Linked DNA regions of Homo sapiens. The protein of the gene in region 2 purifies or fractionates together with the protein of the main gene of each other region. This does not show direct contact. Each region holds a gene or a part of one and is shown on either strand. Other genes may lie near its edges. The genes, in order: CDC27, ANAPC7, ANAPC16 and ANAPC2.

Region 1 (7,849 bases), on a different chromosome or scaffold from region 2:
TGGGCCTGGAGCTCTAAAAAGTAGTCTGGCTGGAGATACAAATTTTTCAAACCATTTGTAGATGAGAAACTGGGGCCACAAGAATGGATAGGGGCGGGGTATGGTGGCTTACGCCTGTAATCCCAGCACTTTGGGAGGCCAAGGTGGGTGGATCACCTAAGGTCAGGAGACCAGCCTGGCCAACATGGCGAAACCCCATCTCTACTAAAAATGCAAAAATTAGCCTGGCATGGTGGCGTGTGCCTGTGGTCCCAGCTACTCGGGAGGCTGAGGCAGGAGAATCGCTTGAACCTGGGAGGTGGAGGTTGCAGCGGGCTGAGATCACACCACTGCACTCCAGCCTGGGTGACAGAGTGAGACTCTGTCTCAAAAGAAAGGAAAGAGAAAGAAAAAGGAAGAAAGAAAGAAAGGAAGGAAGGAAGGAAGGAAAGAAAGAAAGAAAGGATAGTTTTGCCTAAGAAGAATGTGTAGGGTGGGTGAGAAGAAGGCCTAGAACAGGTCCTTGAAGCATGCTTAATATTAAAGGGGCTGGCAGAGGAGCTGCAAAGGAAACCGATTAAAAAACAGAGCAGTAGGCCAGGCGCAGTGGCTCATGCCTGTAATCCCAGCATTTTGGAAGGCTGAGGCAGGCAGATCACTTGAGGTCAAGAGTTCGAGACCAGCCCAGCCAACATGGCGAAACTCCGTCTCTACTGAAAATACAAAAATTAGCTGGGTGTGGTGGCGCACACCTGTAAATTCAGCTACTCAGGGGGCTGAGGCAGGAGAATCGCTTGAACCCAGGAGACGGAGGCTGCAGTGAGCCGAGATAGCGCCATTGCACTCCAGCCTGGGTGACAGAGCGAGACTCTCTCAAACAAACAAACAAACAAAAACAGAGCAGTAGGAGGAAAGCTAGGAGATGGTGTCATTAGAGAAGCCAAAAGAAGAGGATGATTTGACCAAAGAGTAAACATGGTGAGGGTGGGGTGGGGGTGGTGGGGTGCAAGGTCAGGTAAGGAGGCCATAAAACCGCACGCAACAGGGACAAAATGAAGGGTACAGACAAGGAGGACTGAAAGACTTCAGGAGAGTACACTTACTCTGGGCTATGTTTCAGTGGGACCTACATTTTGCTACTGATATCACGTCTAGCTTTTTGAATAGTTCCCTAAATGCCAGCCTCCAAATCTGACTGAATATGAAATAGACCAAGAAGCAGGCTTAGGAGAAAAAATAATTTTCCAATTCCATTTTTGGAATAATGCTGTTGTAACCCAACTCCACTCACTAGCCAAACATATTGGATAACGGATGACAGCAGGATGCCCAAGTGGTTGATGAATAGCGAGTTTAAGTAGGTCAATTAGGAGCAGAGAAGGAAGTAAAAACACTCCAAAATACCCCATCAAAGTACTTCAAACAATGTGGCTTTGCTGTGGATGAGTAGAAACCACAACAGATGTATTAGCCTGGTCAACAACAATCAGAAAGGAGATGCTTTTTTTTTTTTGAGACACAGTCTTGCACTGTCACCCAGGCTGGAGTGCAGTGGCCCGATCTCAGCTCACCGCAAGCTCCGCCTCCCAGATTCACGCCATTCTCCTGCCTCAGCCTCCCCAGCAGCTGGGGACCACAGGTGCCCACCACCACGCCCGGCCAATTTTTTGTATTTTTAGTAGAGATGGGGTTTCACTGTGTTAGCCAGGATGGTCTCGATCTCCTGACCTTGTGATCTGCCCGCCTTGGCCTCCTAAAGTGCTGGGATTACAGGCGTGAGCCAACGCGCCTGGCCTTTTTTTTTTTTTGAGACGGAGTTTTGCTCTTGTTGCCCAGGCTGGAGAACAATGGCGCAATCTCAGCTCACCGCAACCTCCACCTCCCAGGTTCAAGCGATTCTCCTGCCTCAGCCTCCCAAGTAGCTGGGATTACAGGCATGTGCCACCACGCCCAGCTAATTTGGTATTTTTAGTAGAGACAGGTTTTCTCCATGTTGGTCAGGCTGGTCTGGAACGCCTGACCTCAGGTGATCCGTCTGCATTGGCCTCCCAAAGTGTTGGGATTACAGGCGTGAGCCACCTCACCCAGCCAGGAAATGCTCTTTTTTAGGTTAAAAAAAGAAAAAAGGCTTTAGGCAAATTCTAAGCCTATAAGCCAGAGTGCCAAGCATCAGAGGCTCTTTAAATGCTGACTCTAGATCCATATTTTCACAAAGTATCATCTTTATGTATCCTCTGTGGTAAGGTCCTATATTTAGGTTTACAAAACTCTGCTGCACACATACAAGACTTGGGTTGGCAGCATGTTGTGTGAAAAAGAGCTGAGTCCGTAAATGACCACACAAGTTTAGCATGAGCAAACAGTGTCATGTGACTGCTAAAAAATGTAAATACAGGCTGGGCACAGTGGCTCACACCTGTAATCCCAGCACTTTGGGAGGCCGAGATGGGTGGATCATGAGATCAGGAGTTTGAGACCAGCCTGGCCAACATGGTGAAACCCCGTCTCTACTAAAAATACAAAAATTAACCGGGCGTGGTGGTGCGCACCTGCAATCCCAGCTACTCGGGACGTTGAGACAGGAGAATTGCTTGAACCCCGGAGGCGGAGGACGCAGTCAGCCGAGATTGCGCCATTACACTCCAGCTCTGGGCAACAGAGCAAGACTCAGTCTCGGAAAAAAAAAATGTAAATACAACTGTAGTCCACTTTAATAGACGTGTCCAGATAATAATAGTCCAACTGCATTCTGAATTATTCAGAATAAATCTGGAGTACTGTGTTCAGTTGAAAGGGTCACATTTTAAGAGTGATAGCTCTTACTTATCCCTTTCTTTCCATTCCCAATCTTAGATACTCTCATCTCATATCTAGCGTGGTAGATTGTTTCCAAAGATGACCCAAAAACTCCTCCCATGGCACACGCCCTTTGTGGTGTTACTTTGCCACTCTTCCCATTAAGAAGTAGACTATTCCTCCTGGTGAATCCAGGGTGGCTCTGAGTCTTACTCTGACCAACAAGAAGTGATGCTCACAGGCCTAGGCCTAAGGGACCTCACAGCTTCTATTTTTGCGCACTTTGTTGTCAACCACCAAGTCAAGAAGCTGGAGCTAAACTACTGACTCATAAGAGGCCAGTGTGAAAAGAGAGGTCATGCAGAGAAGAAATGAAGGACCCAGCCAATAGCTACCACTGACACCCTAGACATGTGAGTGAAGCCATCTTGAATCTTTCAGCCCTAGCCAAGCCAGTGCTGGTGATGTTCTTCTATATCTGTGTGACTGTCCAATATGGCAGTCACTAGCCACATACAGGGCTACTGAATCCTTGGAATGTGGCTAGGGCATCTGAAGAACTTCATTTTTAATTTCATTTTAACTTAAACTTTAAATAGCTAATGGCTACTTTCCAGGCCAGTGTAAAAGTCTGTTACCACTCAAGTCATCCAGCATAATCCCGCTAAAGCAACTGGGCACAGGGCAGCCAAAAATCATCTTAGCACCTGCCCTTTAGGGGCTATAAGTATATATACAGTGACAAGACAAGGCGGTGGAGAAGGATGCAGTGTAGCTCTGTCAGCCTTGTTTTTAAAAATGAAAGAAAAAATATCTCCCTCTAACATCACCCAAAGGGAAATTTCCAAGCAATGGAATATATCATGATTCTCACATCTAGCCTAGAGAGCTCCTGACTAGAAAAGTAACTTTCAAAAACTGTTTCCTCATCTGCTGAAAAACAAAATTTAAACAGTCCCCTGGTTCACTCTTTTTGGGGGGAGAAGGGGAGCAGAAAGGAAATATGAGAGAGTCTACATTGCATGCTAGACACGGCCACATTTATAATACATCGAATTCTCTTAATCCTTTTTTTTCAAACTAAGCGAACATAAGTTCAGAGAGGTAATTTGCCAAGGACCTATGACTAGTTAGTGCTAAAGATAAAATTCAAAACCAGGCCTCTGAATTTCCGACCCCCTACTCTTCCCACCACAGCGGAATGCCTCACCTATCAAAAATAAAAATTTCTAATGGCCTATTGAGCTTTTCCATGATCTCTTCACCTAAGTAACTATTTCCAATTAATGCCTTCTTAGCAGACTGATCCCATTTTTCCTCCCTTCACTTTCCTATACTTCTTTTTCCTCTAATTTTACCCATCCTTCAAACTCCATTTTAAACTTTTTTTTCCTTCCATAGAACTTTCCTTATCTTATCACAATTGCCCTCTCTGAATTTTTATATTACTTATAATAGGCACCATATAATATAGCGTTCTCTGTTACACTGCTTTTCCCTTAAATAGACCTTAATCTCCTTGAAGACAGAAGCTATCCTATGTCTTTGGGGAGTGGCAATCTTTCCAAATTTCTTTAGCTTTCCCCCAGAGCCGTGAGTAGATACTTCTGGAATGGACGAATGATCTAAACTCAATAGACAAATACTTGTTGATTCATTAAAGACAGCCCCAAACTCTGCTGTTTCACCCTTTGCTTCATAATCTACAGCACACCAATTAATCCAAAAGGGCTGAGGGGCTAATCCACACTGCAGCCCCGCCACGTAACGCTACCCGCCCGCGCTGTCACGCCACGCCCAGCCTGCTGGTTGCAGATTTGGCGTAGCCCAACCCTGGGACGGCCGATTGGGCGTGGTGTGCGTGGCTGAAGGCGTGGCTGAGAAGAGAAACCTACGCTTTGGGTCAGACTCGGTAGCTTCCGGTAATCTTCGACAATTTCCGGCAACGGTTTTCTCTCTCGTCGACCAACCTCGGGTATTTCCGACTCCCTTCGGGCTTTTCCGTCTGGTTCCCGCTCGGCTTTCTCCACTTCGGGTATTCCCGTGTCCCGCTCGGAAGCACTCGGCAATCGCTCGGCCTCCCCCATCCCCCGGTAACGGTCGCTGGTGAGTTTAAATGAGCAGGGGCTGGCCGGGCCGGAGCCGCTACAGGGGGGGCCTGAGGCACTGCAGAAAGTGGGCCTGAGCCTCGAGGATGACGGTGCTGCAGGAACCCGTCCAGGTAATGATAACCTTCTTCTCTGGGGCTTGGCTGGCAGCCTCGGTCGGGAAGCAGCAGCGTAGGGCCACTCCGCGGCCTGGTGCGGCCTAGGCCCGGCTGCTTCTCCCGCCTCCCCTGCTGCCGTGTCCTGCCTATCTTTAGTCAGTTCGGAGGCCTTGCCCACAGCCTAAGCCGTGTTACCTCTGGCCCTACATTACTTCACCCTTAGCGTGAGCGGCTTCGGCGAAAATAACCGCCTTTCCCGTCCGAGCCAACGTCCGGCCAGCCTTTCCTGTCAGTCCAGGGGCCTGGCTTGACTGGGGGTGGGAGATGAGGGGCCGAAAATGCACCCCAAGCGCTCTCTTGCCTAAAAGATGATCGAGAAGCACATTTGATCGGAGCTTGTGTGATCTTCGTGACGGTAGGGCAAGTTTACGGAGGTTTTTTTTATTTTGTCTTGTATGAGAGGGTGGAGGGAGCGTAGGATCGGTCTTTTTAATACTAATTTCTATTTTGGTAACAGACTTCCTATCCCACGTTTCCTTTCTCGGTGAATTTCCCACCGGACAATGATGGTTTGAGAAGACAACTCCAAGCCTCAGTGCTGAGGCGCAAGCACCAATACCAGGGGAGGAGGTGGAAAGGGCACATTTGGGTTGTTTTCATCCTCTCTGATGGGGATCAGGAGCATTTTGTTGTGCATGTTTATAAGGCATTCAGGAAATGAAACACAAATAATGGTGTTTCTGTCCATTTCACTGCCTTTACACCAGGGTATGCTTTGACGCACAGTGCTGTGTTGCATTAAAGGAACCCTATTGGATTTTAAGTGTGTGATGCGGTGCCAAGTCATTTTCCCCCCTGACATCTGGAGAAACTGTATCTTTTGTGCCTTGGTAATGGACCAGGTCTGGGAGACTTCATCCCACTATATGATCTTTAACTTGATCAGAATTGACCTCTATCAACTGCTGTCATTGAGTCATGGACTTTATTTTGAAGTTATAAAGCAAACTGATTTTTAGAAATTCCTTCATATTGCCCTTAAAAGGCTTGAGGTATCAAACAGTAAATATTTTAATATATCACTACTTTCATATTTATTTCATTTTTCTAAACAGCATGAAATACTCATTTCTTCTAGTTTGGTTTTTTTCTCCAGCTGTTTACATATAGCAGCTATTAGTGTTTGAATTAATAAAACGTAAGATTATATCTTATGAAATTTACCTGTCTGTAAGTTGTATTAGTTTTTCTAGAGCTATTTCCATCCAAATTCTTTTTACCAGTATAGTTTCTTTTAAGATTTTTTTTTATTCTGGCTGTAGATGAGGTAATTATATATATATAATTTTTTAAGGCCTAACATGAACTTAAATAGATAAGCAGATTACTCAAGTTATTTAATTTCTGTTGCATATTCTTATAATTTTGTTTTAATAGTTAATGATTTTTTTTTTTTTGCCTTCTCTGGCCCCAGAAGTCTTCTAAAGTGATAAACTAGTTGCATTGATAGACTATAACCACCATTTAATAATAATTTCAGACTTTATAAAAGCATGGAAGGCCGGGCGTGGTGGCTTACACCTGAAATCCCAGCACTTTGGGAGGCTGAGGCGGGTGGATCACCTGAGGTCAGGAGTTCGAGACCTGCCTGGCCAACACAGTGAAACCCTGTCTCTACTAAAAATATAAAAAATTAGCCAGGCGTGGTGGTGGGCGCCTGTAATCCCAGCTACTTGGGAGGCTGAGGCAGGAGAATTGCCTGAACCCAGGAGATGGAGTTTGCAGTGAGCCGACATGGTCCCGCTGCACTCCAGCCTGGGCGACAGAGTGAGACTCCATCTCAAAATAAATAAATAAATAAAAAATAAAAGCATGGAAAAGAAAAGGAATATGTAGCCTGTTTCTAGATAGTACCCATCAGGTTTCCTGTTTGTCCTTAAAGTACTCTGAGCAGTAATACACTTTGATATTTTTAAGGCTTAAATGTCAAATTTGCTTCTTTTTCATAGCAGCATTGTCCATTAGATTTTTGAGATAGTGGTAGAAAGTTTTAGGATATGACTAGGTGAAAATTTTGGTTGTATAGTATAAGAAGCCATTCAAGAATGGATTTGGAACAGTGAGAAGAACAAGCAACTTTGGCTACAATGATAAAGATCAATGATCAGGGATAGTGCTGCAAATGGGAAAGAATTAGGAAGAGAATAAAAATAGGACAGATATATAAGATACTGTCTTTATTAAAAAAAAAACTATGATGACAGATTGCGTGTATTTGGAAAGCAATGAGAGTAAGTTGGAAAATTGTTCTTTCTTGGAATGCCTCAGAGTTGATGGTATTACTAGGCATAGGAAAAAGTTCACAGAAAATATGAAGAACTGTTTTCTGCATTTTTTTTTCTTTAAAGTTTTAATGTAGAATGGCCAGTCCGATATACCATATATGCCTAAATTAAAACTCCGTCTCAAATTACTACCTCTCAGAAGAGTATTACTTTATATTTGAGTCCTTACAAAAGTCTCACATATGAGGCAGAATTTCTGTCAGTTCTTTTATTTTTAATGGTAACTATTTGGAAAGACACACTAGCCTAAGTGACTTCAGTGAGAGCTTTTTGAATATTTATAAAAGTCACCTGGTGAAATTGGTTTTTAAAAAAGAAGCAAAGAGATTTTATATAGATTTAGCAATTATTCCTAGGGGTAAGACTTCACAGAAGTGTTGGATGAAGTTGTAAATAAGCCTTTCGAAAATTAATTTAATAAGCAATATAGCAATTGGGTACTATATACATGATACTGTTTTAGAGATCATTAGATGGTGAAGGAGTACTCTTGGCTGGGGATAAAATGTTCAGGGACAGCATC
Region 2 (7,021 bases):
TTATTTCTCAAATTTGAACTCATCTTCCTGTTAAGAGCAAATCACTCCTAGACTCCTAGGTTTATTTTTAAATGCTTATAAAAATATGTTTTGGAGGAACTGCATCTTGTAAGATCTATTTTAATGTCTGTGACTGAGTCACCAAACGTTGCTGAAACTGGCACAGCTCCTTTGAACTCCCAGGGTCAATTCACATGAACTTAAAATATTACATAACAAAACAAAGTTGGACCCTGATTGTGCCCACTCTGGAGGTCACAATGAACAGACCCATTCCCACAGCCAACACTATCATATGGATGTGGAGTTATCCCACGAGTACTAACTCTGGCCCAAGGTAAGATGGCCACGAAAAAGAATAGGCCTAACAGGCCATGTACAGTGGTTCACGTCTGTAATCCCAGCACTTTAGGAGGCTGAATTGGGCAGATCACTTAAGCCCAGGAGTTCGGGACCAGCCTGGCTAACATGGCGAAACCCCATCTCTACTAAAAATACAAAAATGAGCTGGGTGTGGTGGTGTATGCCTGTAATCCCAGCTACTCAGGAGGCTGAAGCAGGAGAATCACTTAAACCCGGCAAGTGGAGGTTGCAGTGAGCTGAGATTGCACCACTGCACTCCAGCCTGGGTGACAGAGTGAGACTCTATCTCAAATAAAAATAAAAAAAATAGGCCGGTTGTGGTGGCTCATGCCTGTAATCCCAGAACTTTGGGAGGCCAAGGCAGGCAGCTCACGAGGTCAGGAGTTCGAGACCAGCCTGGCCAACATGGTGAAACTCCATCTCACTAAAAAATACAAAAATTAGCTGGGTGTGGTGGTGGGCGCCTATAATCCCAGCTACTTGGGAGGCTGAGGCAGGAGAATGGTTTGAACCCGGAAGGTGGAGGTTGCAATGAGCCAAGATCATGCCACTGCACTCCAGCCTGGGTGACAGGGCGAGACTCTGTCTCAAAAAAAAAAAAAAAAAACAGGACCCGGGCACGGTGGCTCACGCCTGTAATCCTAGCACTTTGGGAGGCCGAGGCGGGCGGATCACGAGGTCAGAAGATTGAGACCATCCTGGCTAGCACGGTGAAACACTGTCTCTACTAAAAATACAAAAAATTAGCCAGGTGTAATCCTAGCTACTGGGGAGGCTGAGGCAGGAGAATGGCATTAACCCGGGAGGTGGAGCCTGCAGTGAGCCGAGATCATGCCACTGCACTCCAGCCTGGGCAACAAAGCGAGACTCTGTCTCAAAAAAAAGAGGAGTAAGAGAAAAAAAATAGGCAAACTAAGTGATCTTGCATGGTGTCTGACACAGAGAGATTCATATTAATGAGTACGCCACACTGGATGGGGGCGAGCGGTGGGAGGACAAAAAAAAAAAACCCCATCCCAACTATACCCTCACCAAAAACCAGAAAAAAAATCAGAAAAAATGGATTATGAAAGTATGGGGTGACAAATCCAGTGAAAGCCCTAAATAAATGTAAAATGCCTAATGCAGTGGTTCCCAAACCTGTCTGCACATTGGTAACCCCTGGGGACCTCCAAAAATATCGATGTCTATTCCCAATTCCATGTATTTCCATCTACACTGGAGAGACCCAACGTCAGGATATTGAAAAGCTTCCCCGGATGATGTTTTTTTGTTGTTGTTGTTGTTGTTTTAATAGATGGAGTCTTGCTCTGTCGCCAGGCTGGAGTGCAGTGGCGCAATCTTGGCTCACTGCAACCTCCGCCTCCCAGGTTCAAGTGATTATCCTGCTTCAGCCTCCCAAGTAGCTGGGACTACAGGTGTGAGCCACCATGCCCAGCTAATTTTTGTATTTTTAGTAGAGACGGGGTTTCACCACGTTGGCCAGGATGGTCTCAATCTCTTGACCTCATGATCTGCCCGTCTCGGCCTCCCAAAGTGCTGAGATTACAGGTGTGAGCCACCACGTCCGGCCAGCTTCCCCAGATTATTCTAACAGAGTTTGGGAAGTGCTGGCCTAATGAAACCTTCCATCTGAGGGCTGCTGCCACACCCACGGATTCACACCATTCACCTATGTTTTCTTTCTTACCTTCATAACAATCTAAGCGACAAGGTGCGAGCCGTATGGCCTCCCGAAAGTGGATTATTGCTTCTTGGACTCTGCCCATGTTCCTAAGTGCTGCTCCCTTAAGTAGCAGAGCTTGAACACTATTACTGTTCAGCTGAATGGCCTTGGCTCCTAAATAGAGGGCCCGGGAGTAGCGTTTGCTATAGAAGCTGTGACAGCTGGAGAAAAAAAAAAAAAAAAAAACACAAAAACCCCAGAAGTTATCCAAGAGAAGACTACAAAGAAAGTTGATCCAAAAATCATATTGAAGGCCCTGAACATAATCCTTATTCCAAACCACACTTATAGTTTTAACCTAAGATATTAGTAGAAAAGCAAAACAAACCAAAAAATCCACTATTTATTTTTAAGGGGAAATCTTGATATGGAAGAGAAAAATTATGAAAAAGAACCTATGATCTGGATATTAGTTATTAGCAGAGAGGCATTCAGAGAATTTGTAAAGCCAGGTTAATAAACAAAGGAGCATCTTCTGGCCCCATCACTGATGGCTCAGTACTAAGCACAATGCATTCACCAACTCAGTTAATGCTTAACCCTAGAAGGAGAGGTTATTAGCCCATTTTCCAAATGAGAATACAGACCTAGATAGGTAAATAATGCATCCAGAGTCATAAACTATTATTTGAATCCAGGGCTGATTATCCTTTTAAAAAAAAAAAAAAAAAAAAATATATATATATATATATATATATATATATATATTTATAGAGACAGGGTCTTGCTACATTGCCCATGCTGGTCTCAAATTTCTGGCCTCAAGTAATTACCTCTTTTTATTTTTATTTATTTATTTTTGAGACAAAATCTCACTCTGCCGCCCACCTGGAGTGCAGTGGCACGATCTTGGCTCACTGCAACCTCTGCCTCCTGGGTTCAAGCAATCCACCTGTCTCAGTCTCCCAAAGTGTTGAGATTACAGGCATGAGCCACCATGCCTGTCCAGGTGATTACCTCTTAAACCTGTGCTTTCAATTTATATTCTCTTCAAGAGCAACCATTATCTCTTAATCTACTGACAACTGGGGAGAAAAGAGAATGCATAATCATACCCAGAAACCACCCACGGTTCTGCATGCTGATCAGAGATATTGAAAAGGCGGCATCCAAGGTTCTCAACATCCTCTAGCCGCCCTTCTCGTGCCAGTAGGTAGCCATATACATCCATTCCTAGAAGAGAAGGACATAGTGAGAAGAGGTGTTTTAAGAAGAGAAGCAGGGGTCCCACATACAGGAGTAGCACCCAACATCAGACCCCATGCTGAGGCCCCAGCTCCTGCAGGGGCTAAGCCCTTTCCACCATCACAGGCTCCTCCAACTACTATTTCCAGTTTCCTACAAAGTGACTATTAAAATGCAAAACCCAGGTTGGGCACAGTGGCTCACACCTGTAATTCCAGCACTTTAAGAAGCCGAGGCAGGTGGATCACGAGGTCAGGAGATCGAGACCATCCTGGCTAACACGGTGAAACCTCATCTCTACTGAAAATACAAAAAATTAGCCGGGCATAGTGGCACGCGCCTGTAATCCCAGCTACTTGGGAGGCTGAGGCAGGAGGATCACTTGAACCAGGGAGACAGAGGTTGCAGTGAGCCGAGATCACGCCACTGCACTGCCTGGGTGACAGACTGAGACTCTGTCTCAAAAAAAGAAAATGCAAAACCCAGCTGGGCGTGGTGGCTCACACCTGTAATCCTGGCACTCTGGGTGGCAGAGGCAGGAGGATCACCTGGGCCCAGGAGTTCAAGACCAGCCTGGGCAATATGGTGAGACCCTGTCTCTAAAGAAATTTTAAAATATCAGCCAAGTGGCCAGGTGCAGTGGTTCATGCCTGTAAACCCAGCACTTTGGGAGGCCAAGGAGGGCAGATCACGAGGTCAGGAGTTCGAGACTAGGCTAACAGGTGAAACCCCATCTCTACTAAAAATACAAAAATTAGCTGGGCATGGTGGCGTGTGCCTGTAATCCCAGCTACTCAGGAGGCTGAGGCAGGAGAATCGCTTGAATCAGGGAGGCGGAGGTTGCAGTGAGCCAAGATCGTGCCACTGCACTCTAGCCTTGGCTACAGAGCGAGACTCCGTCTCAAAAAAAAAAAAAAAAAAAAAAAGAAAAAAAAAAGAAAAAAGAAGGGCCAGGCGCGGTGGCTCATGCCTGTAATCCCAGCACTTTGGGAGGCTGAGGCAGGTGGATCACGAGGTCAGGAGTTCAAGACCAGCCTGGCCAAGATGGTGAAACCCCGTCTCTACTAAAAATACAAAAAATTAGCCAGGCACAGTGGCAGGCGCCTGTAATACCAGCTACTCGGGAGGCTGAGGCAGGAGAATTGCTTGAACTCAGAGGGCGGATGTTGCAGTGAGCCGAGATTGCACCACTGCACTCCAGCCTGGGCAACAGAGTAAGACTATGTCTAAAACATAAAATAAAATAAAGTAAAATAAAATAGAAAGAAAAAAAAATTAGCCAAGCACAGTGGCACATGCCTGTGGTCCCAGCTACTCAGGGGGCTAAGGCAGGAGGATTGCTTGAGCCCAGGAGGTCAAGGCTGCAGTGAGCTATGTTTGTGCCACTCCCGCCTGAGTGACAGAGTGAGACCCTGTCTCTAACAACAAAACCAAAACCAAAACCAAAGGAGGCCGGGCACGGTGACTCATGCCTATAATCCCAGCACTTTGGGAGGCCGAGGTGGAAATTCAAGACCAGCCTGGCCAAGATAGTGAAACCCCATCTCTACTAAAAATACAAAAACTAGCCAGGCGTGGTGGCACACACCTGTAATCCCAGCTACTCAAGAGGCTGAGGCAGAAAATTGCTTAAACCAGGAGGTGGAGGTTGCAGTGAGCCGAGATTGCACCACTGCACTCCAGCCTGTGAGACTCTGTCTCACAAAAAAAAAACAAAAAAAAACAAAAAAAACAAAAAACCAAAGGAGCAGAACAACCTACCTCACAATTTGAAAGCCTGCTATTTTCAGGAAGTGCTTGTCCTTCTATCCTGTGGTGTGATACACAGCTACCCTAACCCAACCAGAAAAGGCCCAAAAAAGGCATCAACTAAGGTCTCTCTTCCCAGAGTTCTAGACCATCAGAAATACACTGCTGAAAAGCCAATCAGTCTCAGAAAAAGTTGGCCTATTCCAGAAAAAAGCTTGTAGTTCTATCCAGAATGCAGTTCATTAAAGATCACTGCCTCGGGCTGGGTGCAGTGGCTCAGGCCTGTAATCCCAACACTTAGGGAGACTGAGGCGGGTGGATTACCTAAGGTCAGGAGTTGCAGACCAGCCTGGCTAACATGGTGAAACCCCCGTCTCTTCTAAAAAAATACAAAAATTAGTTGGGTGTGGTGGCGGGCGCCTATAATCCCAGCTACTCGGGAGGCTGAGGTGGGAGAGTCACTTTAACCAGGAGGCGGAGGTTGCAGTGAGCAGAGATTGTGCCACTGCACTCCTGCCTGGGCGACAAGAGTGAAACTCCGTCTCAAACAAACAAATAAAAAATCACTGCCTCTCCGCAGCCCCCGCTTTATTCTCACCCACATTCTATAAAAAGGGACCTATGCTCACTGTTACCCATCTCTTGCCACCATTCTCTTCCATCCCTTGCTATCCCTTCAGATTCCCATGAAAATTCCTCTCAAGCCAAGATTACTGCAATGCTCCTGCTAGCCCCTGGGCCTGGGTCTGAGATTCCAAGCTGCCATTGCCATTCCAAGCTGCCAGCTGTTGCCAGACTAGTATTTCTAAAACATCATTTTCATCATGGGTGCAGGCAGCTTGGAGAAGAGGAATAAGCACTTGAGGTGAGGGGAGATCTTGTGCAAACAAATCCATCCTTCTAGATCTGCTTCCTCATCTAAACGCTTGGGATGGCCCCTTCCCAGCTCCATCATTCCCCTGGCTTAAGAGCTCATAAGACTGTTTATTGTCACAAGGCCCTGTTTTTCTGATGGCCTTTTTTGGACCTTTACAAATAGACAGCATATCTATCTGACCTTATTTCCCACTATTCCTGAGAACTCACTGCCAGTGTCCTAACTGCCATCTGTTGGAGGTCCCTGTGAAGATTACCCTTCACCTGCAATCTTTTTCAAGATCAGTGATTTTTCTGTTGTTCACGCCTAATTACTGCCTTTAATCACCTTATCCCTTTCTTATTCCTTTTTAATTATACTAAGGACATGGCAAAACAAAATTCCCTAAAAGGATATTATGGTTTTAGGGATGCCATCCAAATTCTCAGTCAGGCACACCATAAATTTATAAGTCATAAGGAGGAGCTATGACCCCCTCAAAAGAAAAAAAGCCAAATAATGATCTGTGGGGAGAAGACACTTGAATTCAAGCAAAAACAGCTGCTCAAATGGTATTACCTAAGCGTTAGAGACATGTGTCATGACCTAAAAAAAGTAAAAGACTAGTATAAGTTTTATACACCATTTCTATGAAACTTGGTATCGAGTATTAATGCTGCATATTCTCCCTATTATCTCTGATCCCCCCCAACAACAGCCACTGTCTTCCTGCCCCAAGAATTACTTACCTTTTATCAGATAAGGATCCAACATCTGTGCCTGTTCAAACTTGAGGACAGAGTTTTTATTGTCTCCAGCTCTGAAGTACAGATCTGCCAAGCTTCCCAATAGGTCCACGTTATCTCGCAATAAGGATTTTTTCTCTAGTGAACTTTAAGATATTTATTAAACATTGAACCTTTAAATCTATTATAAATCCTCTTAGTTGCTGAATCTGGATGATTGGTCATACAGATACTATTTTCTTTTGCATAAATATAAAATTCTTCGTAATAAAAAACTTTAAGCTTATGACTTTAAAAAAAGTTATATAGGACAGGATAGCAAAAACAAAGAATAAAGCAGAAGTCTCTCAGTACCAACAAATAACTCTGTGGTTGCAGTTCTTCAGAACACAACAT
Region 3 (7,021 bases), on a different chromosome or scaffold from region 2:
TCTTTTTTCCTTTAAGTGTTGCAATTTTTTTTTTTTTTTGAGACAGAGTCTCGCTCTGTTGCCCAGGCTGTAGTGCAGTGGCTCGATCTTGGCTCACTACAACCTCTGCCTCCCGGGTTCAAGTGATTCTCCTGCCCCAGCCTCCCAAGCAGCTGGGATTACAGGTGCCCACCACCACACCTGGCTAATTTTTTTAATATTTTTAATAGAGGCAGGGTTTCGCCATGTTGCCCAGGCTGAGCTTGAACTCCTGACCTCAAATGATCTGCCCACCTCAGCCTCCCAAAGTGCTATGATTACAGGCATGAACCACCGCACCTGGCCTTAATATTTCAAATTTACACAACTATATTTTAAAACTAATCTAGGAATATCTGTGAGAAAGATACAAACTATAGGCCAGGCATAGTGACTCACACCTGTAATCCCAGCACTTTGGGAGGCTGAGGCAGGCAGATTGCTTGAACCCAGGAGTTTGAGACCAGCCTGGGCAACATGACGAAATCCTGTCTCTAGAAAAAATAGAAAATTAGCTGGGTGTGGTGGCACGTGGCTGTAGTCCCAGCTACTTAGGAAGGTGAGGTGGGAGGTTCACCTGAGCCTGGGAGGTGGAGGCTGCAGTGAGCTGTGATCGCATCACTGCATTCGAGCCTGGGTGATGGAGACCTTGTCTCAAAAAAAAAAAAAGAAAAGAAAAGATACAAACTATAGTTGGCCTTGGGGGTGATGAATAATCAGAAATAATAAAAAGAGTTACGGGTTAAGCCCAAAATCATTTGTGACAGGAAACCACGGGGGGACTCTGGGACCATAGAGCTCCCTAGGATTGGTTTGGGTTATGACTAGTGGTGAGGTAGATGACCAGGTAGCATATGTAATTAGTGATACATGTACTTCTCTCTTTGCCTTTTTATTTTCTTTAATTGTGTTAACTAAATACTCAAGTTAGTATCACTGAGTCTGGTTAGAAGTAGTGAACAATTGGGGCCCTGTTACCATATTTGGTGCTAAAACTATATTATGACTTCATTTATATGCAGCAAAGACCTAGTATTAAGGAAGTTTCCCACAAAACAAATCAAAAATGGGAGACACTTAAATTGCTTAATGAGTTTTATAGCAGCAGAAGAATCCATATTCAACAATGGAGCTCTAAGATTAAAGTCATTTAAATTCTAGCTATAAGAGGAATTTAATACAGGAGGTACCTCCACAGTCTCAAAGCTATCAGCATTCTTTGTCAGTATACATCAAATTATGTGGAGATATTGAAGAAGAAAGGCTTCTGAGATTAGTCTGAATGTTGATGTTCTAACGAGTTATAGATCTATCCATTTTTATTCCATCTCAATATGCTTCATGGAGAAATGTGTTGTGTTTCTGTTGTAGGATACATTTATATTAAGTATAAATACACAGTGCACAGTTTTGATTGTGTTTCTTACATTTCAAGTTTTACCAATAATCTTAAATCTTAAAAAGATTAAGATAATCTTTAAAAATCTAAAATCTTAAGAATATAAAGAGTATTACACTTAAAGACTGAAAAATAATGTAGAGATGGCAACCCCTAAACCCATTTAATATTCTTGGTCAAATCAAGAATATTAAATTGAGAAGAGTACTCTGAAATGTAAGGATGTTGGATTTGGAAGCATTTTCTACCATGTTTATAGGTGATACTATTCTATTATACAATAAATCTAACACACATGTACCTGACCAATAATAGTTTAATAGAATATGAAAATAGAGGCCGGGCACGGTGCCTCACGCCTGTAATCCCAGCACTTTGGGAGGCCGAGGTGGGCGGATCACCTGAGGTCAGGAGTTCGAGACCAGCCTGACCAATATGGTGAAACCCCACCTCTACTAAAAATACAAAAAAAAAAAAAAAAAGGCATCGTGGTGTGTGCCTATAGTCCCAGCTACTCAGGAGGCTGAGAGAATTGCTTGAACCCAGGAGGCGGAGGTTGCAGTGAGCCGAGATCATGCCACTGCCCCCCAGCCTGGGCGACAGAGCGAGACTTGGTTTAAAAAAAAAAAAAAAGGATATGAAAATAGAGCAGGAAGGGTTGCCTGTCAAGAGTAAGGAACAAAAGCAGTTAGGAATCAAGGATGGATGCTGTTTTTAATCTCAAAAGGTTCAACTTGATGTTACATCCTTGTGAGTCTAGGATAGTAAACCCAAATCACCTGTAGTTAACCTTGTGAATTAACTTTTTTGTGCCTCTGCTCTCTGATAACAGACACCTCACATAAGCAGCATACAGCAGTTTGCAGCATTCTCCTGCCCTTGGCCAAAATTGTCCTCACCCAGTTATTACTGAGCACATTAGAAACTGCCTTCCAGCCCATCAGTGGCTGTATTTTAGAGACATTGTAGCCACTGAAGTATAAATTATCTGGCATTGTCTAATTGCCTACTGTGAGGTAATATTCTTTTTAATGTATTTGTTACCATCCTTATTTATTGGAGTTGGCTATGGTGTTAGATTTGGGTAATTTACTAAACTTTTCCCTGTTTATGACCTGTGCTTGTCCCTGACAAGGAAAGCTGATGTATTGCTACCTGCTGTGTTACAAAGGGTTTGATTACAGTTTCTAAATGGAAGAGATTGCCCCCAGCTGACTCCGTTCTGGAGCAATTCCAGGCTTTAGACTGGTACTGATACCACATCTAATAGGATGTGGCTAAGAAGCAATTGGACTTGGACGTTAATAGGGAGCTGCAAATCAGCAAAAGTGTGTTCCACAGGCATATAGTGTGGTGGAGTGAAATGCAGAGGTTCCTTTTTGAAAGTTTAGCTTATATCCTTTTGCTTTGAAGTTCATTACCAAGGAAAATATGCAAATATCACAACTTAACTATTTTATCCTAATGGTGCCTGTGATTAAATGCAAGTGAGAGGTGGCACTTTCAGGAGCTTCCATATACATCTTGGCCTGATCCTTATAGCCTATAATTCCCACTGCCTTGTGTGTAATCCTAAAGTTCAGGATCAAACCATCTGGGAGGTAAACTCTAATTGTCTATGCTTTCCTCTTTCTAAAATAAAATATGAGTTATAATTGGACTTTTTAAGCAAGAATATGAATAGGATAATGACTGCTGACATTCAAACCCCTTTTTTTTTTGAGACTGAGTTTGAATTTACAGAATGTAACACTGTCTCTGAAGAATACAAAAAGTATACATCCCAATAATTATACTTTCATTTTTTTCTTTTTCTCTTTTTTTTTTTTTTTTGATCACTTTGAAGATGATATTGGAAGGATGCCCTCTTGGTTATATATTCAAGCTCTTTGGATACAGTATCTATAGTTGTTTTTTTTTTTAATTGGTTATTGTGACTTCTGAAATAAGGTTTCCTTTGTGTGAAACTCAGCATGAGGCCAGAATGTGTTAGTCCTGTCTGCTTGCCATGTAATACCTGGCCAACACAACAACCCATGATTGATGGGTGAATGCTTGAGGCCTAGTAGTGCTAACGTGAAGTACTGCCTGAAAAAGGACAGCTGTGTCCTCTCTCCCCGTTTGTTTTAGGATTTTCGCAATAAGGTACATCCCCCAAATGGTTTCTGCTACCTTTTTAAAAATCAAATGTTTCTACGTGAGCTGTAAATTTTTGAGAATATGTTTTGCTGTATCAGCCCTTGCCTGACAAGGAATAACATGAACTAGCTTATGTTTCATGATCATCTTCCAAGTGCTGTGGCAACTGAGTTGGCCACTTCTTGTTGGCAGTTCTTGGCACCAGTACAATTCTAGGTTCTGAACTTGCACCATACTCTTATCGTCATCCAAATTGCAGTGTTTTGGTTCAGTTGGAAAATCAAGGTTACAGTTTGCGTTCACAGAATGAAATTTCCCAGCAGTGTTCTGTGATTGTCAGAGTGATGTAATTTGATATATTAAAAATCAACAATTTTTTCCTCAGCTTTGTTTTTTAGACTGAAAATGATTTGGAGTTTTGGTGAACCTTTATATTTTGACACTACAGGAGCCAGCCACAAGGCCAAATGTGTCAGCTGCCAGTGTTTGCTTGACATACAGGAGAACATTAAGGAACTCTCAGGTTGGGAGGAGGGAAGTGTTGACCAGGACATCAGACGGAGGTTTCTTGTTTTTGTTTTTTTAAACACTATTTTTAAACTCTTAAGTAGAGGGACTATTTTAATATTCTAGGTATAGAATAAATAGCTTTTATAACAGTCTTAGTTCTAAATGAAGCAGAACCCGTCTTTGTAAACACTGAGAACTAGACCCTGAATGTACAAGCAGGGAAAAGAATAGACAAGTTTACTTGGTTTATCAGAAGCCATAAAACCTTTAGAGCAGATTAAAACCTTTTCTCCTTTTGTTTGTAGATGGCTCTGAGAGATTCCTCTGCGAATCTGTTTTTAGCTATCAAGTGGCATCCACGCTTAAACAGGTGAAACATGGTAAGCACATGAGTGTTGCGTACTTGACTGTGAGAATAAATTTGCTAGGGGGTGGATGAGGCTGTGACAAAAATCCCCAAACTCAGCAAGGCTATTTTAGTGGACTTCCTAAATTAAAGAACATTCTAGGTCTTAATCTAGTCATAATGTCCACATTGAGGCTTAAGGTTGGGGCCGAGTGCAGTGGCTCACGTTTGTAATCCCAGCACTTTGGGAGGCTGAGGCGGGTGGATCACTTGAGGTCAGGAGTTTGAGACCAGCCTGGCCAACATGGTGAAACTGCATCTCTACAAAGAAAAAATTAGTCAGGCATGGTGGCGCATACCTGTAGTCCCAGCTACTTGGGAGGCTGAGGTGGGAAGATCACTTGAGCCCGGGAGGTTGAGGCTGCAATGAGCCGGAATCACAGCACTGCACTCTAGCCTGTGCAACAGAGACCCTGTCTGAAAAACAAAAAAAGTTGGTCCTCCAGGGAGTCAGTGCTTCCTGCTCCTCTTGTGTTACTTTTTCCTCTCCTGTCTGAAACCTCCTTTTACTGTTGTCCTCCACTGGTTACCATCATCATCTTCAAGTATTTGTACGATACCTCCTGGTCTGTCTATACTCTAACATCCTGATAACACTTTTTCTGTTACATTAGGCCTCACCAGGCCTTCATTTCTGCATCAACAAACTGTGTTCCCCCTCCAGACCATTTCTCCATTGAAACTTTATGTAGGGGGAAAAGCTGTAATTGCCTCTAACCCTAGGATTTTAGTCCACAAATCACTATGGCATAGAGGATGAGTACTTTTTTTAGGAACAGAGCACATCCAGGCCGGGTGCAGTAGCTCATGCCTCTAATCCCAGCACGTTGGGAGGCTGAAGCAGGAAGACTGCTTGAGCCCAGGAGTTCAAGACTGACCTGGGCAACATGGTGAAACCCCATATCTAAAAAAAGAAAATACAAAAATTAGTGGAGAATGGTGGTGCATGCCTGTGGTCCCAGCTACGTGGGAGGCTGAGTTGGGACGATCGCTTCAGCCCAGGAGGCATACTCCAGCCTTGGTGACAGAGTGAGACCCTGTCTCTGGAAAAAAATAGGGCACATCCTGAAAATGTGATCATTTTATTTTAAAATGACTTTTATTTTTTGAGACGGAGTCTCTCACTGTCACCCGGGCTGGAGTGCAATGGCATGATCGCGGCTCACTGCAACCTTTGCCTCCTGGGTTCAAGTGATTCTCCTTCCTCAGCCTCACAAATAGCTGGGACTACAGGTGCACGCCACCACGCCCAGCTAATTTTTGTATTTTTAGTAGAGATGGGGTTTCACCATGTTGGCCAGGATGGTCTTGATCTCTTGACCTTGTGATCCGCCTGCCTTGGCATCCCAAAGTGCTTGGATTACAGGCATGAGCCACTGCGCCCAGCCTTTCTTCTTTTAACATTAGAAGAAACTTCCAACTTAAAAAAAAAAAAATAGGCCGGGCACGGTGGCTCATGCCTATAATCCCAACAATTTGGGAGGCTGACACGGGCGGATCACCTGAGGTCGGGAGTTCGAGACTGGCCTGACCAACATGGAGAAACCCCATCTCTACTAAAAATACAAAATTAGCCAGGCATGGTGGCATATGCCTGTAATTCCAGCTACTCGGGAGGCTGAGGCAGCAGAATCGCTTGGACCCAGGAGACAGAGGTTGCAGTGAGCTGAGATCACACCATTGCACTCCAGCCTGGGCAATAAGGGTGAAACTCTGTCTCAAAAAAAAAAAAAAAAAAAAAAAAAAATTAAGCTTCTGACCAGCATAGAATAAGACCCCATTATGAGAATTTTGAGGGTCGGGCACAGTGGCTCACGTCTGTAATCCCAGCACTTTGGGAGGCTGAGGCAGGCAGATCACCTGAGGTCAGGAGTTCGAGACTAGCCTGGCCAACATGGTGAAACCCCATCTCTACAAAAATAAAAAACTTAGCTGGGCACGATGGCGGGTGCCTGTAGTCCCAGCTACTCAGGAGGCTGAGGCGGGAGAATCACTTGAACCCACGAGGCAGAGGTTTCAGTGAGCCGAGATCGCGCCATTGCACTGCAGCCTGGGCAACAAAGCAAGACTCCATTCCCCACCCCCACCCCACCCCCCAAAAAAAGAGAGAGAATCTTGAGGAGAAAAAAAAATCCATCTAGAAATTTTTTTTTTTTGAGACGGATTCTCACTCTGTCACCAGGCTGGAATGCAGTGGCACGATCTCGGCTCACTGCAACCTCTGCCTCCAGGGTTCAAGCGATTCTCCTGCCTCAGCCTCCCGAGTAGCTGGGACTACAGGCGCATGCCACCACGTCCAGCTAATTTTTTTTGTATTTTTATAGAGATGGGGTTTCACCATATTGGCCAGGATGGTCTCGATCTCTTGACCTCGTGATCCGCCCGCCTCGGCCTCCCAAAGTGCTGGGATTATAGGCGTGATCCACCACACCCGGCCTAGAAATTATTTTTATACCAGTCATCATCTTGGTGGCTGGTGGCAGTCTCTTGGGTAATACGTTGTTGCATAATATTCTTTCCTTGACTCCTTACAGATCAGCAAGTTGCTC
Region 4 (7,157 bases), on a different chromosome or scaffold from region 2:
CACGTGACTCTCACTCCCAGATGAAGATCTCCTTCAACGACAAAAGCCTGCAGACCACATTTGAGTACCCTTCCGAGAGCTCCCTAGAGCAGGAGGAAGAGGTGGACCAGCAGGAGGAGGAGGAGGAGGAGGAGGAGGAAGAGGAAGAGGAGGAAGAGGGATCCGGCTCAGAGGAGAAGCCCTTTGCACTCTTCCTGCCCCGGGCCACGTTTGTGAGCAGCGTGAGACCCGAGAGCTCTCGGCTGCCAGAGGGTAGCTCAGGTGAGTGCCCACCTGGGGGACAGGCAGCCTGGGAGGGGTGGAGCCTGGTCTGTGTCCACGTCTGCATGTGCACCTCCATTCACAGGCCTGTCCAGCTACACCCCGAAGCACTCTGTGGCCTTCAGCAAGTGGCAGGAGCAGGCGCTGGAGCAGGCCCCGAGGGAGGCAGAGCCCCCGCCCGTGGAGGCCATGGTGAGATGCGGGGGAGTGGAGCGCTGGGGGGAGTCTGACACCCGGGCGAGCCCATGTGTCCACATTCTGTCCTCTCACTTTCAGCTCACACCCGCCAGTCAGAATGACCTCTCGGACTTCCGCAGCGAGCCAGCCCTGTATTTCTGAGCCCAGCACTGCCAGGACCAAGGCTGAGCCCAGCTGTGGGAGTCCCGGAAGCTGGGCAGTAGCCAGGGACTACTGCACCCGCTTCTGCCTTGTTTGGCCTCACTGTATCCCACCCACCCCTCCTGGCCCTGGAAGCAGCTAGGGTGCCTCCTGCCATCGGGGCCAGGTCTGGGTCTCACTCCCCGGCCCTGATTTGGGAGGGTCCAAGGGGGAAGTGGGGTGGGGAACTGCCTGTGGGTGAGTGCCAGGGGCCTGCTGGGTGGTGGCCATCTGCGACCCGGCAGGGGGCTGTGCAGATTCTGCACCTGGCCATTCCCTGTCCTGTCTCCTCAGCCTGCCTCACAGTGGCCATGGGGTGTCGGGGTGAAGGGCTGTCCCAGCTACTTGTCCTCTGCAGGACCCTAAGCCCCTGCCCGCAGCCCACATGCCCTCTGTGATGAGTGGCGTCTTTCCTGCCTCTGATGATGGACTCAATAAACAGCACTGGACAAGGCTGCTGGTGTCCCCACTGCGTGGTCCTTGGCTGAGAAGGGAGCAGGGGGAGGTCTCTGCAGGAAGAGGCCACATGGGGTCCAGTGGGCCCCAGTTTGCACGTCTATGCCAGGGTGTGTGGGAGGTGACCCCGATCTGGTACCCCCACTCCTTGATGTCCCAGTGGCCAAGGCTCTGACCTCCCAACTTCCATGGCCTGTTAACCTGTTGCCCCTCCACCCCAGCCTCCCAGAGCTGGCACTGTGGGAGGTAGGATGACAGGCCTGCTGTCAGGGGCCTAGACTTCAGGTGGGAGGGTGAGAGTGTTGCAGCTGTTGGGCCTGAAGTGGCTTCTCTGAGGGGCCCAGAGCCTGGGGAGGGACCAAGGGAAGGGCAGCATGAGGGCAGCACAGGGGACGGTGTCTTCTGCTGGGCTTGGCGTGCCCCCCGACCCACAGGATGAGGCAGGCCGGGAGCAGCGCCTGCCTCAGACGGCCAGAGCTGGGGCTGTTTACAGCCCATGGAACCCAAGCACCATTTCCTCCCTGGAGGATCAAACCTAAGAGCAAAGAGATAAAGAGATGCTGTCTGGCCAAACTCCGGCGGAAGGAGAGTTTGGTGTATTTCCCTGGTCGGGTTAGGCCCAGCTCTTTTCTGGACCCTCTGGATCAACACATGCCTCCCAAATCGGCCCAGTCCTCGGGCCATGCTTGGTTGCTGCAGGGACAAAACAGAGGCCCCAGGGCACATGGAAGGATGGAAGTGGCCAGTGCTTGGTGTGCGGCCAGGGAAAGGTGGGCAGCAGGGCCTGGTGGCAGCAGTGGTGTCATCAGGCCAAGCAAAACTTGCAACTGAGGAACCGACGGGGGTGGGGGGTGTGAACTCCCCCCAGTCCTTGCTGAGAGGGACCTGAATCTGAGGCAGCTGCTGGATATGCTTGGCATCCCCAGCTGTCTCTCTGGGCTGGGTCCTATGCTGGCCACCAGGGTGTGGCAGAGAACAGGACGAGCAAGCAGAGCTCCTGAGAGGAGGGTGAGCCGTGGGCCAGTCAGGGGAAGAGGACCGGCGGCCCTGCTGGGGAGGGCTCAGGGTGGGGCTGGCCTGGGGAGGGTGGGCACCCTCAGCGGTGTCCCTGAGGCTAGTGGGGCAGTCACAGGGAGGCCACTCCAGACCCTCCTCCCTCCTCTCCCAAGGGGGAGCCTCAGGCTCTGGCTCTGCAGGTGTCTGGCAGCCCCATGCTGTTGATACGGGCAAGCAGCAGGCTGGCACGGATCTTTACAAAGATAATCTTTATTCATAATCACAGGCCACAGGGGTGAGACCTGAGGTTTGGGTTCTGTGGTGAAGGAGAACCCCTGTCCTCCTGTCCCTTGCCCTGGGCCTCTGCTGGCTGAGGAGGGACAAGGTGAGGGGGCCCCCATGGTGCTCAGACAACCAGAGCCTCCCTGGCAGGGCAGGAGTGTGGGTGCCACAGAGACAAGCCCCTTGCAGAGCTGACCTGGAGCCCACCATCCCCATAGCCTGTGTGAGCATGAAGCGAGGACCCCCGGGTGGGCTGTGCCCTGGGCTTGTCACTGATGCCAGTGGAGGCTGGCACCTGCCCCTCTCGGCACCTGAGACAGTGAGGGAAGGTAGCTGCTGCCGTGAAGAACAAAGATGCTCTGAGCACACACTTGCTGGGGCTGAGCTGAGGGGCACACGGAGGCAGGCCCTGCCCGTGGTCTGGTCAGCTGTCCCTGCCGCCGCTACTTTTCTGGTCTGGGGCTGTAGCCTTGGTCAGGTTCCCAGCTTCCCTCTTGAGAACGCTGAGCAAAGTCTGGGAGCTCTCCAGGATCTGGGGCCAGAGAAGTGAGAAGGTTGTTAATGTTCACCTGTTGGTAAGGTCCTAAGCCCCAGCTGTCCTCACACTCAGGTGCTGGGACCTGGCTGGGGGTGCTGTAGCCAAGGGATCCTGTGTGGGGGAAGGCGGAAGCCCAAGGGGACTGGCAGACGGGGTGGCAGGGCCCTCTTCCCTCCGGAATCTGACCCAAAACACTTCCTCTCCACCCTCAAAGCCAGGCTGGGTTAGCACTGGCCCGTGCTGGGTGCTCTGCCCAAGACCTGGCTCTTCACACTGAGCAGAAATAACCACATGGCTAGCGAGAACCGGATAAAGACCAGGACCCAGGATGCCCCAGGCCCCACAGACAGCCCCACAGTCACTCCCACAGCAGCCTGGGTTCCTCAATGGGCCTGGCCACGCTGCCCCTGCCCGAAATGCCAGCGAGGCACAGACTGCCCACAGCCGGGAGCCCCAGCCGGTCCTGACGCCTTGCCGTGGCAACACCCCTGCCGTGCCTATCCCCTGATGCTCGGCCTGGCCTCCCGAGCTCCACCTTGAGGTAGGCGGCCTCCGTCTCCGCGATGGTCCGGTCGAACTCGTTGCGAGAGGCAATCTTGCGTGCCAGGTTCTCGTTGACGCGGGCCAGCTTCTCTGTCAGCTGCCTCACCTCATTCTGCAGCCGCTGCTTCTCGTCCTCCTCCTCCTGGATCTGCCGGCACAGCTCCTCCCGCTTCTGGCACAGCTCCTCTATGCCTGGGGGCCGGGAGGGGCGGCGCTGTGGGCCCAGGGCAGGAGCGCGGCGGCGGAGGGCGGGCCTCCTTCCACCCGAGGAAGCCAGAGTCAGGCACCACCCCCGAGCGCCCGGCGCGGGGCCTGCGAGCCAGCGAGGGCTCGGGCCACGGACACCCGGCCTCCGGCACGGAGGGCTCTGCTCAGCCGCGCGATGCCCGCAGCGAGGCGGGTCCAGGGGCACCCCGCTGCGAGCCGGGAACCCGGCCCTGCGGCCCTCCCGACCTCCCCGTCCCGGCTGCGCCGCTCACACTTGACCAGCTCGTTGTTGTAGTTCTGCAGCGCCGCGCCCTGCTGGGTCATGGTCAACGCCGCCCGGGGCCCCACCACCCCAACCGCCGCGGAAGCAGCGCTGTCCGCGCCTGCGCACGACTCCCCCACGGCGCGCCGAACTAGCGCGTCATCGCTGAGCGCCTTGTGCGCGTCATGGCTGCGCGTGCAGACGTGCGTCATCGCCGCGCGCCGCGCCGAGCGAATCTCGGAGTCGGTGGGTGCAGATGGCGGCGGCAGTTGTGGTGGCGGAGGGGGACAGCGACTCCCGGCCCGGACAGGAGTTGTTAGTGGCCTGGAACACCGTGAGCACCGGCCTGGTGCCGCCGGCTGCGCTGGGGCTGGTGAGGCCTGGGAAGAGAGGGGCGGCCCCGCGCGGAGTTTCCGGGACCGTACGCGCTTTGGGGCCGCTACCCTCGGGTTCATACGGCTCTGTCCATCATCCGCCTCTGTCCTGTCCTGCCATTTTCCACCACCTTTCCGTTTCGTTTCGTTCAGCTCCGCTGACAGCCCTTCCATAGCTTCGGCCCAACGTCCGGGCAGCACGGACAGGGGGCAGCGGAGTTTTTGCAGCCTCCCCCTCAGCTTCTTCCCTTCCCCGCCTCTCCCCACCTCTATGTTGTGTTCCCCTCGCCTCACGGTTTTCTGCACCCCAGGTGTCTTCCCGGACCAGCGGTGCAGTCCCGCCAAAGGAAGAGGAGCTCCGGGCGGCGGTGGAGGTTCTGAGGGGCCACGGGCTACACTCGGTCCTGGAGGAGTGGTTCGTGGAGGTGCTGCAGAACGATCTGCAGGCCAACATCTCCCCTGAGTTCTGGAATGCCATCTCCCAATGCGAGAACTCTGCGGATGAGCCCCAGTGCCTTTTGCTACTCCTTGACGCTTTTGGCCTGCTGGAGAGCCGCCTGGATCCCTACCTGCGTAGCCTAGAGCTGCTGGAGAAATGGACTCGCCTGGGCTTGCTGATGGGCACTGGTGCTCAGGGGCTGCGAGAAGAAGTCCACACTATGTTGCGCGGAGTCTTGTTCTTTAGCACCCCCAGAACCTTCCAAGAGATGATCCAGCGTCTGTATGGGTGCTTCTTGAGAGTCTATATGCAGAGTAAGAGGAAGGGGGAAGGGGGCACAGACCCGGAACTGGAAGGGGAGCTGGACAGCCGGTATGCCCGTCGCCGGTACTACCGGCTCCTGCAGAGCCCGCTGTGTGCAGGGTGCAGCAGTGACAAGCAACAGTGCTGGTGTCGCCAGGCTCTGGAGCAGTTCCATCAGCTCAGCCAGGTCTTGTGAGTAGTCTGTCCCGATGGCCATGCCCTTGCTCCTTCTGGTTCCCCGCTGCTCCCCTGGGTCCAGCTGGCCTCAGCAGAAAGCTGGTGAGCCGTCCTGATAACCAGGAACATGACAGAGAGAGAGTCCCAGGGATTCCTGTGCAGCGTGTCCTGGACACAGGTGTCTCTCTTCTGTCACTCACCTTCAGTCCCACAGATTCATGCCTTGACCCTGGTAAGGCCCTATGTGGCTTGTGTCTGCAGCAGCAAATTTCTTAGCAACTCCAAACTTCCTGGACTCTGCAGAATTCCACTGTGCCTTTTGTCGATCCTGGGGAGGAATGATTCTCACCCTCGTCGACATTCCTTGCCCTGTAATTGTGAACAGAAGCTTGCTGCTGCTTCTCTCCAGGAAGATCAGGTCACTGTGAGGGCAAGCAGTCTCTTGTTAGTTTGGAGAGGAGAGGGGTTTGTTGTGAGAGACAGGTCCTGTTGTAGTTCTCTAGCAATTGTCATACCCTTGGCCATTTGTGGTGGTTTTGTCACATTGAACGGGGGTGTAGCCATGCAGCTACTTGAGAGGTCTTAGGTGGACTAAAGGTGGACTAAAGGAGTGCTCCTTTTGCTGGCAGGGGTCAGGGAGACCGTGAAGGGCTTCTGTTGGGCTCATCCCTGCAAAAGTTACACGGCAACTTTTCTCATCCTCCTCTTGAGTCCTTTTGTCACTGTAGACCAGAGACTGCACTGAAAGGCACAAACAGTGGCATCTGTACCTCTGCGGCCAGGGTAGCAGTGCAGTTGGTTGTCGTTTCAGAGTTGATCCTAGGAGATAAGGCTAGGGCCCCCGACAGCCACACCTGCTGCCACTGATCACATGGGGAAGGCCAGTGTCCCTACCTGGATAGAGGCCAGCTGGGCGGGGACAGCAGAGCCTGGGAGTGCTCTGTGCTCCCAGTGGCTTCTTGAAGCCTTTGGTACAACCGCCCCCCACAGCTGAGGATTGTGGGGAGGTGTGTGCTGGGTGTGTGTGTGTGTGTGTGCTGCATGCACTCTACAGGCAGGGCAGTCCTGGCATGGGGCTGTTCTGGGCTAGAGGGGCCGGTGTGTGCTCTGGGTGCCCCATGGCCAGGGCTCTCCTCTAGACACAGGCTCAGTCTGCTGGAGCGGGTCAGTGCCGAGGCTGTGACCACCACCCTGCACCAGGTGACCCGGGAGAGGATGGAGGACCGTTGCCGGGGCGAGTACGAGCGCTCCTTCCTGCGTGAGTTCCACAAGGTGAGGACCCCTCCCTTGGGCTGTGCCCCGCTGGAGACAGGGGAGTAGGTTTCTGGCAAACCTGACACCTGGCTTCAGAAGCATCCAGAGCACGGAGGCCTGGGTGGGCCCAGACCGGGTGGTGGCTGGAGCTGTCTTGATGTGGGGTAGAGACCAGTACTTCTGGGCCCTGGTGATAGCGAGGACGCATCTGAGGTGCGCTCTTCGGATCTGCGCAGAATCCCATGGCTGCAGGCGGTATCGGGCCAGGATCCCGAGGGGGCTACCTCAGGCAGGTGTGGCGAAGCTGGGCCCACCAGAGGAGCCACTGAATGGATCCCCTTCTCCTGTTTGCTGCCCTACTTGAGTGTGGACTCGCTTGGCCGGTCCCTAATGGACTGACCTACAGCCAGCCTGCACCACAGCGGGGAGCGAGACACCCTCACATGGGGCCTCCAGGCACCTGTGCTGTTGGGGTGTGGTCTGGGGCTCTGCTCTGGGCTCCCGGAGCCATAGGGGAGCTGGGCCCAGCCATGTGGGTCCCCCCATCCTGTTCCCATGTGTCACCTGTCCTTTCCTCAGTGTTTCAGAGTCCCCCTACTGAGGTGCAGATTGGCTGTGATGTTGGGTTTTCAAAGAGGGAGGGTGTCCCCAAAGCGGTGGGCAAGAGTGGGTAGTAGGGTGGAGAGG

What was found.
Region 1: the proteins of ANAPC7 (region 2) and CDC27 purify together in Homo sapiens (affinity purification with western blotting; 23 studies listed by BioGRID and IntAct, with this or other methods). This does not show direct contact.
Region 3: the proteins of ANAPC7 (region 2) and ANAPC16 purify together in Homo sapiens (affinity purification with mass spectrometry; 6 studies listed by BioGRID and IntAct, with this or other methods). This does not show direct contact.
Region 4: the proteins of ANAPC7 (region 2) and ANAPC2 fractionate together in Homo sapiens (co-fractionation; 6 studies listed by BioGRID and IntAct, with this or other methods). This does not show direct contact.

Annotation. Positions count from the first base shown.
Region 1 is NC_000017.11:47,186,293-47,194,141, reverse strand, and holds the start of CDC27 (cell division cycle protein 27 homolog), read left to right. Parts: upstream 1-4,846; 5' UTR 4,847-4,969; coding exon 4,970-4,996; intron 4,997-5,259; exon of another isoform or gene 5,260-5,396; intron 5,397-7,849. UniProt on the Homo sapiens protein: Component of the anaphase promoting complex/cyclosome (APC/C), a cell cycle-regulated E3 ubiquitin ligase that controls progression through mitosis and the G1 phase of the cell cycle.
Region 2 is NC_000012.12:110,379,699-110,386,719, forward strand, and holds part of ANAPC7 (anaphase-promoting complex subunit 7), read right to left. Parts: intron 6,772-7,021; coding exon 6,629-6,771; intron 3,263-6,628; coding exon 3,145-3,262; intron 2,251-3,144; coding exon 2,054-2,250; intron 1-2,053. UniProt on the Homo sapiens protein: Component of the anaphase promoting complex/cyclosome (APC/C), a cell cycle-regulated E3 ubiquitin ligase that controls progression through mitosis and the G1 phase of the cell cycle.
Region 3 is NC_000010.11:72,225,995-72,233,015, forward strand, and holds part of ANAPC16 (anaphase-promoting complex subunit 16), read left to right. Parts: intron 1-4,371; coding exon 4,372-4,446; intron 4,447-7,006; coding exon 7,007-7,021. UniProt on the Homo sapiens protein: Component of the anaphase promoting complex/cyclosome (APC/C), a cell cycle-regulated E3 ubiquitin ligase that controls progression through mitosis and the G1 phase of the cell cycle.
Region 4 is NC_000009.12:137,185,555-137,192,711, reverse strand, and holds the start of ANAPC2 (anaphase-promoting complex subunit 2), read left to right. Parts: upstream 1-4,151; 5' UTR 4,152-4,179; coding exon 4,180-4,296; intron 4,297-4,608; coding exon 4,609-5,231; intron 5,232-6,355; coding exon 6,356-6,488; intron 6,489-7,157. Other genes in the region: TPRN (taperin), read left to right, coding at 21-261, 347-453, 538-600; microtubule nucleation factor SSNA1, read right to left, coding at 2,798-2,905, 3,447-3,646, 3,934-3,985. UniProt on the Homo sapiens protein: Together with the RING-H2 protein ANAPC11, constitutes the catalytic component of the anaphase promoting complex/cyclosome (APC/C), a cell cycle-regulated E3 ubiquitin ligase that controls progression through mitosis and the G1 phase of the cell cycle.